2 linked regions of the Homo sapiens genome follow. Changing the gene in region 2 together with the main gene of any one other region gives a genetic interaction. Each region holds a gene or a part of one and is shown on either strand. Other genes may lie near its edges.

Region 1 (3,500 bases), on a different chromosome or scaffold from region 2:
TATCTCATTGTGGTTTTAATTTGCACTTCCCTAATGACCAGTGATGGTGAGCATCTTTTCATGTCTTTGTTGGCCATTTGTAGATCATCTTTGGACAAATGTCTATTGAAATCCTTTGCCCACTTTTAAATTGGGTTTTTTTATTCTTTTTTTTTTTCCTTTGAGACAGGGTTTCGCTCTGTCACCCAGTCTGGAGTGCAGTGGCGTGATCTTGGCTCACTGCAACATCTGCCTCCTGGGTTCAAACGATTCTCGTGCCTCAGCTTCCTAAGTAGCTGGGACAGCATGTGTGCATGAGCCACTATGTCTGGCTGATTCTTGCATTTTTAGTAGAGATTGGGTTTTACCACGTTGGCCAGGCTGGTCTTGAACTCCTGACCTCAAGTGATCCTCCCACCTTGGCCTCCCAAAGTGCTGGGATTATAGGCATGAGCCACCATGCCTGGCCTATTCTTGAGTTGCAAGAGTTTGTTTCTTTGTTTGAGACAGAGTCGCCCAGGCTGGAGTGCAGTAACGTGATCTCCACTCACTGCAACCTCCGCTTCGTGGGTTCAAGTGATTTCCCTGCCTCAGCCTCCCCAGCAGAGAAGGGGTTTTGCCATGTTGCCCAGACTGGTCTTGAACTCGTAAGCTCAAGCCATCCACCTTCCTCAGCCTCCCAAAGTGCTGGGATTACAGGCATGAGCCACCCCGCCCAGCCAAGTTGCAAGAGTTCTTTACACATTTTGGATACAAGACCTTTTAAGATATGATTTTCAAATATTTTCTTCCATCTGTGGGTTGTCTCTTCACTTTCTTTGATGATGGCCTTTGAAACATAAAAGTTTTAAATTTTGATGCAGTCTAATTTGTTTTTTTCTTCTGGTTATTTTTGGTGTTTCTGTTGTCATATCTAAGAAACTATTCCCTAATCCAAAGTCATGAAGATTTACACCTATGTGTTCTTCTAAGCATTTTTGACTTTTAGCTCTGCTATTTAAATCTTTTATCTGTCTTCAGTTATTTTGTAGATATGGTGTAAGGTAGGGGTCCATATTCATTTTTTTGCATGTGCATATCCATTAGTCACAGCACCATTTTTTGAAAAGAATATTTTGCCCCTCGTTTAATTATCTTGGCTTTTTTGTTGAAATGGTCAATTGATTTTCAGCAATATTCTGTTGATCTATATGCCTAACCTTATGCTAACAACACAGTGTTTTGATTGTTGTACCTTTGTAGTAAATTTTGAAATCATAAAGTGTGAGTGTTCCAACTTTGCTTTTTTTCCCCCAAGATCATTTAGCTATTATGGGTCCCTTGTATTTCCATATTAATTTTAAAATCAGCTTGGATTTTGATAGGAAGGACATTGAATTTGTAAATCAATTAGGGAGTATTGCTGTCTTAACAATTTGGGAGTATTGCTGTCTTAACCATGTTAAGTCTTCTGATCGATGAACATAGAATGTTTTTCCATTTATTTGAATTTTATTTTTTTCATCAATGTTTTGTGGTTTTTAGGGTCAAGTTTTATATTTAACTTTTAAAAATTGTATTCCTAAGTATTTTATTCCTTTTGATTTTATTCTAAATGGAATTTTTCTTAATTTCATTTTTGGATTGTTCATTGCTAGTGCATAGATATATAATTGATATTTATATATTGATATTGTATCTTACAATCTGCTGAATTCATGTATTAGTTCTAATAATTATTTTTGTGCCTTCCTTAAGATTTTCTCTCCACAATAACATGTCACCTGCAGATACAGTTTTTCTTCTTCCTTTTTAATATCAATGCCTTTTATTTCTTTTTCTTGCCTACTTGCCCTAACTAAATCAGTGTCGAATAGACATGCTAAAAGTGGACATCCTTGTCTTGTTCCTGATCTTAGGGGTAGAGCAGTCAGTCTTTGACTTTTAAGTATGATGTTAGCTGTGGGAAACAGATTGTTTGAAAGGACTTTTAAAGCTTATTTATTCACCTTCATTATTTAAAAGCTGTCTATCGGGCCGGGCGCGGTGGCTCACGCCTGTAATCCCAGCACTTTGGGAGGCCGAGGCGGGCGGATCACGAGGTCAGGAGATCAAGACCATCCTGGCTAACACGGTGAAACCCTGTCTCTACTAAAAATACAAAAAATTAGCCGGGCGAGGTGGCGGGCGCCTGTAGTCCCAGCTACTCGGGAGGCTGAGGCAGGAGAATGGCGTGAACCCCAGGGGGCGGAGCCTGCAGTGAGCCGAGATTGCGCCACTGCACTCCAGCCTGGGCGACAGCGAGACTCCGTCTCAAAAAAAAAAAAAAAAAAAAAAAGCTGTCTATCAGACATTATGGTAGAATACTGGTTAGTTGGACATATGCAAAAGCAAATTCTCTGAAATAGGAAGTATATCATCATGTGGAACAGTTACCAAGAGCCCCTGTGTTAGTCTGGGTCAGTCAAGAAATAATTTCTGGAGGAAGTAGTTGAGACCTTAAAAGTTAATAAAGTTGACCATGCAAGGGAGAAGAGAGTGTTCTGAGTGATAAAAATATCAAGGCAAGTGAAGTCATGGCCTGCCTGAGAAATACAGTATGTATTCCAGAGGGTATACTTCCAGGAGGTGGTGCTAAGAGATGACGCAGGACAGGTAAGCAGGGGCTAGATTATGAAGGTCTCACATGGGGCCTGTTACTACATTATAACTTTGCCTGCAGAGCAACCAGAAGTCATTGAGGATTTTAAGAAGGAATAAAAAGGGGGCAAGGGGTGGAAAGAGATAATCTGATTTGTACTGTAGAAAAAATAGGGTCCTAGTTTGGGCCAACAGCCAGAAAACTAGTTAGAGGTTTATTGCAGTAACCCAGGAAAGGATGATGGTGTACTGGATAGTGTCACGGCCGTAGAGACGGAGATAACTGAAGAGATTCCAAAGAGATTTAGGAGTTGTAATTGCATGTTAGAGGAAGACGGGGTGAGGATGATTCCTAGATTTTTGTCTAGGGCAAATGGGTGGATGATGATTTGGGGAATACAGGAGAAATAGTTGGGAAAAGGTAATTAATTTTATTTTGGAGATACTGAGTTTGAGGTGTTTGGAACATATCCAACTGGGTATTTCCCATAGGTAATTGGATTTGATGTTTAGGGTGCAGAAAAAAGGTCTGGGCTAGGTCTATATGGTAGCTATAGATGTTATATCGTTATTGAAGACATGGTAAGGGATAAAATTCCTTCATTCAAAATATAGTCATTTACCAGTTCACAGTATACACTTAGAGATGGCACATAGAACCCATCTTACTCTATTCTCCAAAACACCTCTGACTCCCCTCTATCTTGCCTTTTTTCCTGCCTTCCCTTCTCTTACCCTCCCCTCACACCAAAACAGAAATTTCACATAACTTAATGAAGACGTAGTAATGTGTATTATAAGAGTATTACCATTAGCTTCTCATCCTTCACTTAAATATTGATGTCAGCAAGATTTCTTCTTGCAAAGATAACATCATACCATAATATTTGTTTCAATTTTAG
Region 2 (3,500 bases):
CCCAGATCATCTACTCAAGCCTCACCCACTCTGTCTTTTCAAATCCCTGCTGGGACTTTTTTTTTGAGATGCGGTCTTGCTGTGTTACCCAGGCTGGAGTGCAGTGGCATGGTCTGGGCTCACTGCAACCTCCGCCTCCCGGGTAGGTGGGACTACAGGTGCGTGCCACCATGCCCGGCTAATTTTGTATTTTTAGTAGAGACGGGGTTTCACTGTGTTGACCAGGCTGGTCTCAATCTCCTGACCTCGTGATCCGCCCATCTCGGCCTTCCAAAGTGCTGGGATTATAGGCATGAGCCCGGCCGGGACTTCTTAATACCCCCAGTGACAGCATGCGCAGAGCATCACTGTTTTGAAATTTTAGAATATTTATTAAGCTTAAACCTATTTTCCCACAACTTTTACCTGTGGGTGTTAGTCTTGTTTTCTGGAGGTTGTGTATCGCCTGTCTTCCTCATTAAACAGCTTACTTTCTTTTTAACTGTTCCTTTCCACATGCGAACTTCTGGTGTGTCCCAGGCCCTCTCATTGAACCTAGAACTGAGCGTCATACACTATTTTAATTGTCTTAGTGTGGGGTCTGTAAGTGAATTCCAAGAGAATTTGGATTCTCTAGGTCTGCTAGTGCAGGCCAGGATTTCACCAGCTTTTTAGGTGGTTTAAGAATTAGAACTTGTCATGGAGTGTATGACTTCCAAACTCCGGTAGCTTTCTAAATTATTACAAGATTTGATGAATGAATTTAAATGTGAATGTATTTATTTTTGAATGTCATTGTGGATATACATGGTAATTTAGGAAACTTGAAACAAGAAGTGACCAGGATACGTCAGTGATGGGGTCATATAATGGGAGACCCGGGAGGTGTGACAGAAGGAAGTAGTTTCTTTTTTTTTCTTTTTTTTTTTTTTTTTGAGATGGAATCTCGCTCTGTTGCCCAGGCTGGAGTGCAGTGGCATGATCTTGGCTCACTGCAACCTCTGCCTCCCGGGTTCAAGCTATTCTCCTGCCTCAGCCTCCTGAGTAGCTGGGATTACAGGCATGCGCCACCACACCGGGCTAATTTTTCTTTTGTATTTTTAATAGAGATGGGGTTTCACCATGTTGGTCAGGGTGGTCTCAAGCTCCTGACCTTGTGATCCGCCTGCCTTGGCCTCCCAAAGTGCTAGGATTACAGATGTGAGCCACCACGTCCGGGCTGGAAGTAGTTTCATGTCTGATCCCAGCTCTGCAGCTAGCTTTTGGACTGTGGACAAATCCTTTCACCTGTCAGGTCAGCTTTCTTATCCATAAAATGAGAGGATTGGATACATCAGAATCACCTGAAACTTGTACACATATCTAGTCCTAAACACTGAGATTTCTGATTCATTCATTTCCAATTCATTCTGATTGATTAGGTCAAGAAAGGCCATTCAGACAATAGCATTTTAAAAGATAAAGGCATCCCAGTTTGGTATTCATCGGCCCCTGTGAGAAACATTTGTTAGGAATGTGTCAGAGTTCTCCTTCTCCGGACTGAGTTTACTGAAGTTACGTTTTTGTCCTCAGATTACTTCTTTCCTATCCCTCCTTTAGTGTGACTTTGGAAAATCTCCTTGAAGGTCTTTGAGTCCCATTTCCTTCATGTATAAAACTTCTCCAAGTTATTAAGAGGGTGAAATGACAGAATGTATATAAAGGCAAACTTCCTGCTGCATTGCAGGCCTGCAATCACTGATGATTTTTCTCCCTTCTCTTTTCTACGCTGTAGCTTTTTATCTTTCCAGTTGTTAGATGCCTAATCTTCCCTGTTCACTTGCTCCTCCTTCCTGCAACACTCTTGTGTATATTTCCTTGATCATTGCTATCATCTTTCTCATTTTTATATGGTATCTGTAGAGAACACAGAACTCTGAATTCTTTGCTTGGGCCTCCTGGGGCTTTTCTGGTAGTGTCATTTCCCTTTCTGTGCAGTAGGATTGATGGGCATGCCTAAAAGACTTGGGATAAGCAATCCTCCCTTTTCTTCCCTAGACATCTCCAGTTACAGCCCGAACACTGGAAACTCTGATTCGACTGGCCACAGCCCATGCGAAGGCCCGCATGAGCAAGACTGTGGACCTGCAGGATGCAGAGGAAGCTGTGGAGTTGGTCCAGTATGCTTACTTTAAGAAGGTGAGGATTCAGATGCCTGGGCATGAGAGGATCTCCTGGATATATTACAGATGCATGGGCTTCCCAGCCTTCCGTGGCTGACGGCTACATTTGGATTGTCAACAGAAAGCAGTATTTGTCTTCCAGTCATCAGTCTGCCTCACTCTTTCCTCTGAAACACTCAGTGATTCTCAACCCTGACTGCACCAGAGAATCAGATGGAAAGCTTTAAAATGCTGATTCCAGGGCTCCTAGAGATTCTGGTTTAGTTGATGTGCTGTACTTTCAGTTAGCTGCTTCTCTGTCTACCCCTACTTCCTTTGCATCTTAAAAAAAAAAGTAGGTGTTTTCAAAAGAGCTACCTTGGTAATCTTCCTTGTCCCACTCTACCTTTCCTCTTGGTAGTCTCTTCAAATGTCCCATTGGCACCTCAGAAGCTCATGTTTAAAGTTGAACTCTCAAACTTGCCACTCATCCTGTTTCCCTATTTCTGTTTGTGACATTGCACCTCTGTCATTTTAGATATCAAGCCTCAAAGCCTAGACTCCCTTTTCCTAGTTGCCCACTCCCACCCCAGTCTGGTGAATGTTAGCCTTTTGGGGTTGAGTTGTGAGTCTAATAAACTCTTCCTTGCTTTTTGCTAGGTTAAGGGTTGAGTTGTGAGTCTGATAAACTCGTCCTCACTTTTTGCTAGGTTAAGGGTTGAGTTGTAAGTCTGATAAACTCTTCCTCGCTTTTTGCTAGGTTAAGGGTTGAGTTGTGAGTCTGATAAACTCTTCCTCGCTTTTTGCTAGGTTAAGGGTTGTCTTGGATTTCAATTAGACACCTGATTTATAAGGAAATGGATTGTTTTCACTTAACCATTATGGGCTAGACATTTGTTTCTTTATTCAGTAAACATTTATTGAGTACCTACTATATAAACAGCATTTAACATACTTCCCAGCATTTTGAAAAGATGGGTAGCAGTCTCTACTTCTGCCCCTGGTCCTGGGACTTAGGGACAAGAGGAGCTAGGTAAACCATTGGAAACATGGAAGTCTTTCCTGCTTATGATGCAGAAGGGACTGGGAGTTCTTGATGCAGTTCCCCTGCATCAGTGACCCCTCTAGCCCAGCCACACTTGCCTTGGTCTTAGGTTCTGGAGAAGGAGAAGAAACGTAAGAAGCGAAGTGAGGATGAATCAGAGACAGAAGATGAAGAGGAGAAAAGCCAAGAGGACCAGGAGCAGAAGAGGAAGAGGTAAGGTGGGGCAAGCAAATGAGATTAAAAAGTTAGTGGCCAAGAAGTTGGGGGTGCACGCCTGTAATCTTAGCAATTTGGGAGGCCGAGGCGGGTGGGTCACTTGAGTCCAGGAGTTTGAG

What was found. Genes that interact genetically often act in the same process or in processes that back each other up.
Region 1: changes in MCM3 (region 2) and ATR are lethal when combined (synthetic lethality), as found in Homo sapiens cells (one large-scale study listed by BioGRID).

What each region holds. Positions count from the first base shown.
Region 1 is NC_000003.12:142,453,234-142,456,733, reverse strand, and holds part of ATR (serine/threonine-protein kinase ATR), read left to right. Parts: intron 1-3,500. UniProt on the Homo sapiens protein: Serine/threonine protein kinase which activates checkpoint signaling upon genotoxic stresses such as ionizing radiation (IR), ultraviolet light (UV), or DNA replication stalling, thereby acting as a DNA damage sensor.
Region 2 is NC_000006.12:52,267,743-52,271,242, reverse strand, and holds part of MCM3 (DNA replication licensing factor MCM3), read left to right. Parts: intron 1-2,016; coding exon 2,017-2,157; intron 2,158-3,236; exon of another isoform or gene 3,237-3,274; coding exon 3,275-3,378; intron 3,379-3,500. UniProt on the Homo sapiens protein: Acts as a component of the MCM2-7 complex (MCM complex) which is the replicative helicase essential for 'once per cell cycle' DNA replication initiation and elongation in eukaryotic cells.